Homo sapiens: one gene and its partner. The protein of the gene in region 1 interacts with the protein of each later gene in a biochemical or structural test. Each region holds a gene or a part of one and is shown on either strand. Other genes may lie near its edges. The genes, in order: PTPRC and MRC1.

Evidence for each region.
Region 2: the proteins of PTPRC (region 1) and MRC1 form a complex in vitro, tested with the Homo sapiens proteins (one large-scale study listed by IntAct).

Annotation. Positions count from the first base shown.
Region 1 is NC_000001.11:198,641,970-198,645,798, forward strand, and holds part of PTPRC (receptor-type tyrosine-protein phosphatase C isoform 1 precursor), read left to right. Parts: intron 1-3,829. UniProt on the Homo sapiens protein: Protein tyrosine-protein phosphatase required for T-cell activation through the antigen receptor. Acts as a positive regulator of T-cell coactivation upon binding to DPP4.
Region 2 is NC_000010.11:17,815,736-17,819,564, forward strand, and holds part of MRC1 (macrophage mannose receptor 1 precursor), read left to right. Parts: intron 1-3,829. UniProt on the Homo sapiens protein: Mediates the endocytosis of glycoproteins by macrophages.

The DNA of each region.
Region 1 (3,829 bases):
TAAGTTCTAAATACTCCATAATTTAGAGATTTGGGAATGTGATTAGAATTACTTATTAATTTGAAAAAAAATGTCCTACTAAAAACCTGCCTGTGACCTTTATCATTGCTAAAGTTTGAAATGTACTTTGTTACAGGAAAGACTACGGCTAGGGCCTATATTATCTTTTTCTCTTTTGTTCTGTGTAAGTAAGTATAGGGGCAGAGTAGTTAGCTTGAACTTAGTTCTTTCTTTGTTCTGGACTATTTGCTATCCTCTCACCAGTGACAATTAACCAGTATAGAAATATAGATGTTTCTACATTGTTCATATACTTGAACATATATTTCTTTATGTAGATACTCACACATAAACTAGTTATATATTTGTGGGTTATATATACTAGTCAATCTATCTATCTGTCTATCTATCTATCTATCTATCTATCTATCAGTTCTCCATGTTTGTCTATTTGGCGTTCCCATGAACTTCAGACCTTCGCCTGTGTTCTCTTTTCTCCATTTGGTTACGTATCATTGCCTACTATGTGTTGATCACTCTGATTCTCCATCTCTAGACTCATCCCTCAGAAACACGGAACTTACTACCTTTCCTAAATCCAGACATTAACATGCTCCCCAAGTCCTGAAATTTTGCTTTGTAATAATCTCTAATAACTTCTTGCTTTGACACCTCCATTGCCATCATCTTAATTCATGGCTTTATTATTTCTCACCTGTAAAATTGTAATAGTTTTTTTAATCAGTCTGAAGTCTCATCCTTTTTTTAATGTAATCTACAGCTTAAAAAGTAAAATAAAAAGTGAAGGGTTACTGATTTCTTCTCATTGCCTTTGGTATAAATTCTAATCTTTTTTGCCAGAGAAACTGGTTCCACTAATGATCTGGGGGCTAGGCCTGGAGCTGGGAAGGGATCTTTTTTCTTTTCTTTCTTTCTTCCTTTCTTTCTTTCTTTCTTTCTTTCTTTCTTTCTTTCTTTCTTTCTTTCTTTCTTTCTTTCTTTTTTCTTTCTTTTTCTTCTATGATTGATTAAAAGAAAACAAACAGGAGGTAGTTTTAACACCCACCTCTATACTTTCTCAAGGTGTTTAAGGTTCTGGGCAAATCCTACTTCTTCTATTATGTTCTCTTATGTCACTTTTGCCACAAAATATTTCCATTGAATTGCACACTTTTTATCACCTTTTCTTGGCATTTTTCAAGTCATTTCAATCTGCTCTTTTTTGTGATGATGATTGATGATGATGATGACATGTGAATTAGTGGATTTCTTGACATTGTAACCTACATGAAATCAGGTATAGGAGACACAAAAGGCATAAACTCATAGTTCCCATACCTAATTTTTCACCAGACACTGAATAAATCATAGATTAAAAAAATAAAACTGCATATTGTAGTGACAAAGGAAAGGAAAATTTTCAAAGAGGGAAGTCAAAAAGAGGGAGAATATGAGATAAAAAAATTAACCAGAGGCGAAGTGGGAGGATGAAGACAGCAGGACTATTTTGTCCAGATTAAATTAAGTTGATTTTGGATCTAGATGTTTACAGTCTTGCCTTTTTGTTTTTGTTTGTTTGTTTGTTTGTTTTTTCTTTGCTCCCTTTCTTACTCTCCTTATCTCACCTCTCGTCTGGAAAGAGCCTCCTGACTTCCTAAAAGTTCATAGTTTGAGAATGTTTTTCCTAAATTTTCTTTGATCTGCTCTTTGGACATTCTAGGTAATGTAATTTGGAGGGTCAATTTTATTTTTCAGATACACATACCCATAGGAGAAAAAGCAAGGAATGGGAGGGAAATACAAATGTAGCGGAGTGATAACACAAACAGATCAGGTCCAGTCATGGCAATTGCTGGTTTGAACACTGATGCTAGTGCTCTGGGATTGCTTGCAAGGGCAGATGGAATATGGTGCACCCTAGGTGTTGCATTATTTGCACGACAAAAGTTTGTAGAGAGCTGGGAATAATTTCTTTACAGACAGTGTGGTGATGAATGTCAATCTGAGTAGGTAAGGGGCAGAGATTTGTACTGAGGTTGATTCATTCTCTTGGTAAATACACAATGTTCACAAAGGCAAGGTTTCATCTTCAGACCATGTGTGTATATGTCACCTTGGTGCAGAGAGAGAAATTTTTCATCAGTGCTGACCTTTGATTTTTTTTTCTAGACATCTTATAGATTTATGTAGTTATTTACATGGGAAACAATTAGAATGGAAATTTAACATATCTTCAGTTTAAAATTAATTTCTGTCTAGTCTAAATATCTTTGTAAGTACTAGATACTCAATCCCATAGCAGTGGCCTTTTACCAAAGGCTTAGTGCTATGACTTTTGCATACATAAAGACCTCACTTTTTAAGATATGATACACCAGAAAAAAAATATGGCAAGACTTTAGCAATATGATTTGATGCCTATTTCTATATAATACCCAAATATACAGGAATAAAAATTATGGCAATCACTGGATTTTGTGTACCTGGCTCTAACCAATATTTATATTAGAAAATATCTAATTATTGTCTAAAATATTTAATCTTCATTCCTGTTTGTATGTCAGTGTGCTACTTCAATATCAGTCTGTTAAAAGAGTCTAGGAATGACTACTATAAGCAGAGAATTATATGTTCAGGAATCACAACAAAAAACAAGAACAAATAGAGAAACAAAAGCTTTCCTACTCTTTCATCTAGGACAAGAATAAATACACATAAAGTCAATATTAGTGAAGTAAACAAGCATCTTCTATATCCATTCATAGTACCTTCAATTGATTGATTTCTTAACAGACAATCAGCAAAATTATCAGTTTTTATTAGAGATTTTAGTAGAGACCGAGCTTAAACAAATATATTCTATGGTGCTTAACTCTATAGTATTTAAAGATTCAATATTTATTTCCTCTAAAAATGAGTCAAGTGTCTGAAAGGAAAAAGCCACCTAACTGAAACTTCAGTTTCTACTATACAGGGTATTTATTATAAAACTGTAATTACAATGCAATTATATTGAAGTATAAATGATCATCATTCATTTATTTAAGAATATAATCAAAATTTGCATACCTGGAAGAAAACCATCCACCCTCCAAAATAGGGATTTGCTAATGTAGGAGTAGAAGGCAAAAGTTGAGGGTAACTCAGGTAACACACTCATACGTATTAGGATATGAACAGCTGGTATAGCAAACTTGATAGAAATCACTGATAGACAAGAAGACATTCTCTGCATTTTAAATTAAAGTACAATTTGTCTGTGGTCATTCAAGAGATAGTTTAGAGAAACCTATACAAATAACAATGATGCTAAGAGACAATATCAAAATCACAATAAATATCATGGCAATACAGTGTGGCCACTATATTTTAAACACATCCACTTGATGAAAAATATAATAATTTACTGATAAAACATATTAAGCATAATAGAAAATGAGGCAGAAACCACTCCAAGCTGGGAAACATCATGACATCTGTAGTGATAAATATTTTGAAAATCTAACTCTATGAATCTTGTGATTTTTAGCTAAATCAATTTTCACCCTTGAGACCCAATTTCCTCATCTATAAAGTGTTGTAAGCATTAAAAGTTATAATATTTGTGAAAATGCTTTGAAATTATGTGATACTCTGAGAAGTAAATTTTTTCATGTGAGCCCATGAAATCAGAGCACATAGCCTTTTAGCATAAACTTGATTCCAAATGATATCTCTTCCTTTCAGACACTGTGAGCAGATAAAGGGATAGTTTAAGGTTAAGTGATAGAGGCATAATCCCTTATAGGCCTTTGAATTCTTTTAACTTTGCATTCTTTATTTCAGAGAT
Region 2 (3,829 bases), on another chromosome or scaffold:
CCTGAATATTTTGGGTCTGAATGAAGGATCAAAGTGACAAATGAAGTAATTCTCTGTTTTTTTTTCTTTTGTTCAACATTTCATTTCTTTTTCTTTTCTTTTTTTTTTTGAGATGGTGTCTCACTCTGTCGCCCAGGCTACAGTGCAGTGGCACGATCTTGGCTCACTGCAACCTCCGCCTTGTGGGTTCAAGAGATTCTCCTGCCTCAGCCCCCCATAGCTGGGATTACGGGCATGTGCGACCACATAGGCTAATTTTTGTATTTTTAGTAGAGACGCGGTTCCACCATGTTGGCCAGGCTGATCTCGAACTCCTGACCTCAGGTGATCCGCCTGCCTTGGCCTCCTGTTCAACATTTCTAAGCCTAAGACTGACTAACACCCTCCATCAGCCCCCAGCACCTGGCATAGCTTCTTGAATGTACTAGGTGCAGGGTAAATATTTGTTTTTCACTGAATTTGGGGTCTTTGGGGAAAACATAGGTACATTTATTTAACTGAGGCTGGTGAACATATTTCTTAGTTTGGATTCCCCAAGAAGCTGTCCTCAGACAATTGCACTCTGGTTTGAGGGCAAGTTAGTTTATTTGGGAAGTGAGCCCAGGAAACACTGACAGGGTAACGGGGAAGTGAGACAGAAAGGGAAGGTGTGTGGACACCCAGTGACCGCTGTGGGCAATGGAGTGTAGGAGCTCTGGGCGACGGTGTGGAATGGTTGCCTTGGACTCATCACATCCAAGGTACAAGAGATTTAGAGCCGTCAGCGGTTCTCCTTGGCCTCTGATGAAGGCTTCCTCCTACAGGGCATTCGTTTTCTGACCCATCTAATTTGTGCCATGTTTGAGCCTAGAGGGCTCTGATAGCCAGAAAAAGCCCCCAGGGCAAAAGGCGTGGTGCTGGCGTTTGGGAGTGGGGCCTGCATGCACCTAAACAGCGAAGGCCGAGGAGAAATAGTATAAATCTGGAGGCATCTGCTACAGCTACTTGCTGCTTTTCCTCTTATCTGGCTTCTCTGTCTTCCAGAAGTTATTGTCTTTTGTGTTCCAATGTCAGCATTTTATTTGCTGATAGTCAGGAAAATCTAAAAATGTATAAGAAAATGTAGCATATCATACTTATCTCCCTGAACAATCACCTTTAATAACCAAATTTTCTTTGCTAGTAGGCTTGGGAATTTAATGACTTGTTCAATGTTGCGGCATAATTTTAAAAATGCTTAAAAAAAATCCAGGCCAGGCGCGGTGGCTCATGCCTGTAATCCCAGCACTTTGGGAGGCCGGGGCAGGTGGATCACTTGAGATCAGGAGTTCGAGACCAGCCTGGCCAACATGGTGAAACCTCATCTCTACTAAAAATACAAAAATTAGCTGGGTGTGTGGTGGCACATGCCTATAGTCCCAGCTCCTGAGGAGGCTGAGGCACGAGAATCGCTTGAACCTGGGAGGCGGAGGTTGCAACGTGTTGAGATCACACCACTGCACTCCAGCCTGGGCGACAGAGTGACTCTGTCTCAAAAAAAAAAAAAAAAAAAAGAAAGAAAATCCACACCTATGTTACTGGATGTTTAGTCTTTAATCATTTTTAACCTGAGATATTGGGTTGAAACTTATTGCATGTTACTGGATGTTTAGTCTTTAATCATTTTTAACCTGAGATATTGGGTTGAAACTTATTGCTTCTTTACTAAATGTATTTTGATCCTTGATCTTTTTGCCTTTGAGTTAACCACAGCAGAGAGTGTGCTCAACATGGCAGGAAACTTATGTCTTTTGTTTGTCTTTGTATTGTCATTAGCATAGCATCTGGCGTGTGGTCATTGTTTGTCAAGTATTTGTTGAAAAATTAATGTGAAATTAGTAAGATCAAGTTAGGATGGAAGGAGAATCACTGCAATTCTGGATATAAATTTCTGATGTGTAAGTATTAAAAAAAGAAACTCACATATTAGATCCTACAAAAGAGATTGCAGAGAAATTAAAACAGATCGACTGTGTCGATCTGTTCATCTTTGCCGTATTTCTGTTACAAAAACATAATTGGTATGGACAAAAATAGAATGTTTATAAATGTTGGTGTGGTTAATATTGGTAAAAATGCCACAAGCTGCCTTTTGGCCAACGTCTTGAATACGCCTTCAGAGGAAGAAGTATGACATTTTAAGTCAGACATGTTGCAGAGATGATGATAAAGGCAAAATGACATGCTGATTACTTGGGGAGAAGAATAATGCACGATGAATGTATCACCATAGAGCAATAATTTTACATTTCCTTGTATTGTCTGGCAAAGGCAATATCAAACTTACACTGCTTCCTAATGGCAAAAGATAAATAAAGGAAACAAGAATAGATAAGTGTGTATTGAAACAGAACCTTTTCATTTCCAAGTACCCTTTTTGTAAGTATACACATTTCTAAATTGCTCTTCAGTAAAAATAAGCTTTCAGGGGAAAAATGAATATTCAGCATACCTGTAATCATTAATCTATCATTAGATAAATAATTTATCTGGGTTACTAGTTAAGATGCTTCCGCTTAATAAACATTCTTTCATTCATTCAACTAATTATTTGTTGAGAGATTATTTATGCTCCCCAAAAAGAGACTGCAGCACTAAATCAGAAAGATCAAGTACCTCGTCTCATGAAATTTACATTCCAGTAGGGGACTATGGACAGAACATTAGTAAACAAATTGAAGAAAAATATATTTTAAGATGGTTATGGATATTATATGGTAAATAAAAGAATAAAATGAGTTAGGATGATCAGCCTGCTACGATGTTGACACTTGGCTGGGCGCAGTGGCTCACACCTGTAATCCCAACACGTTGGGAGGCCGAGGTGTGCGGATCACTTGAGGTCAGGAGTTCGAGACCAGCTTGGCCAACATGGTGAAACCCCACCTCTACTAAAAATACAAAAATTAGGTGGGTGTGGTGACATGCACCTGTAATCCCAGAGCTGAGGCAGGAGAATGGTTTGAAATCAGGAGGCTGAGGTTGCAGTGAGCCAAGATGGCGCCACTGTACTCCAGCCTGGGTGAAATAGCAAGGGTCTGTCTCAAGGAAAGAAAGAAAAGGAAAGTTGACACTTGAGCTGTGACCTTAGTGAGCATCCCAAGAAGAGGGAACTCAAAACATGAAGTCACTAATGTGGAAGTGAGCCTGGAGAGTTTGAGGAGCTGAAAGGTGGTGTGGTTGGTGGTGAGGGCAGACAGGTCACTGTTCCCTTTCTAATAAACAATGATATAGGGGCTGGATGTATTTTTCCTGGGTACAGTGGTTCCCTTTTGCAGGGTTTAAGTTGTTGAGAACTTGTAGTTAGAAACCCAGTCTCCTTCCCACCCAGAAAACCTCTCCATAAAGGTAGATGAGAAAGAAAAGAATTTTACTATTGAGTGAACATTCAACCAGAATGTGGTGTACATCGCAGGCAATCTGCAAAAGAGATGGGAAAAACAGAAAGAGATCTCACTCTTGTAGGTGGCTCAGTGAAGACCACCTATTATATTAGGTAGGTTTTGCAATTTGGCATCAGGTGACAAGTCAGGCCCGGCTCCTCCCAGAAAACTGGGAGATCAGGTGTTATCTTTTTTGATGATTCCATTTTCAAGAGAGGAAGATTAGAGCCAAACCATGGTGGCTTGGCCTGGGATGGTGTAAATGGAGTTGGAGCAAAGAGAATGAATTAGGGTATATGTATGAATTCAGAGTTGTATGTGTGTGTGTGTGTGTGTGTGTGTGTGTGTGTGTGTACACAGAAAGGGAAGAGAAGAGGGTGGAGAGAGGGAGAGAGAGAGAGTTATTTAAGGAATTGGCTCACACAATT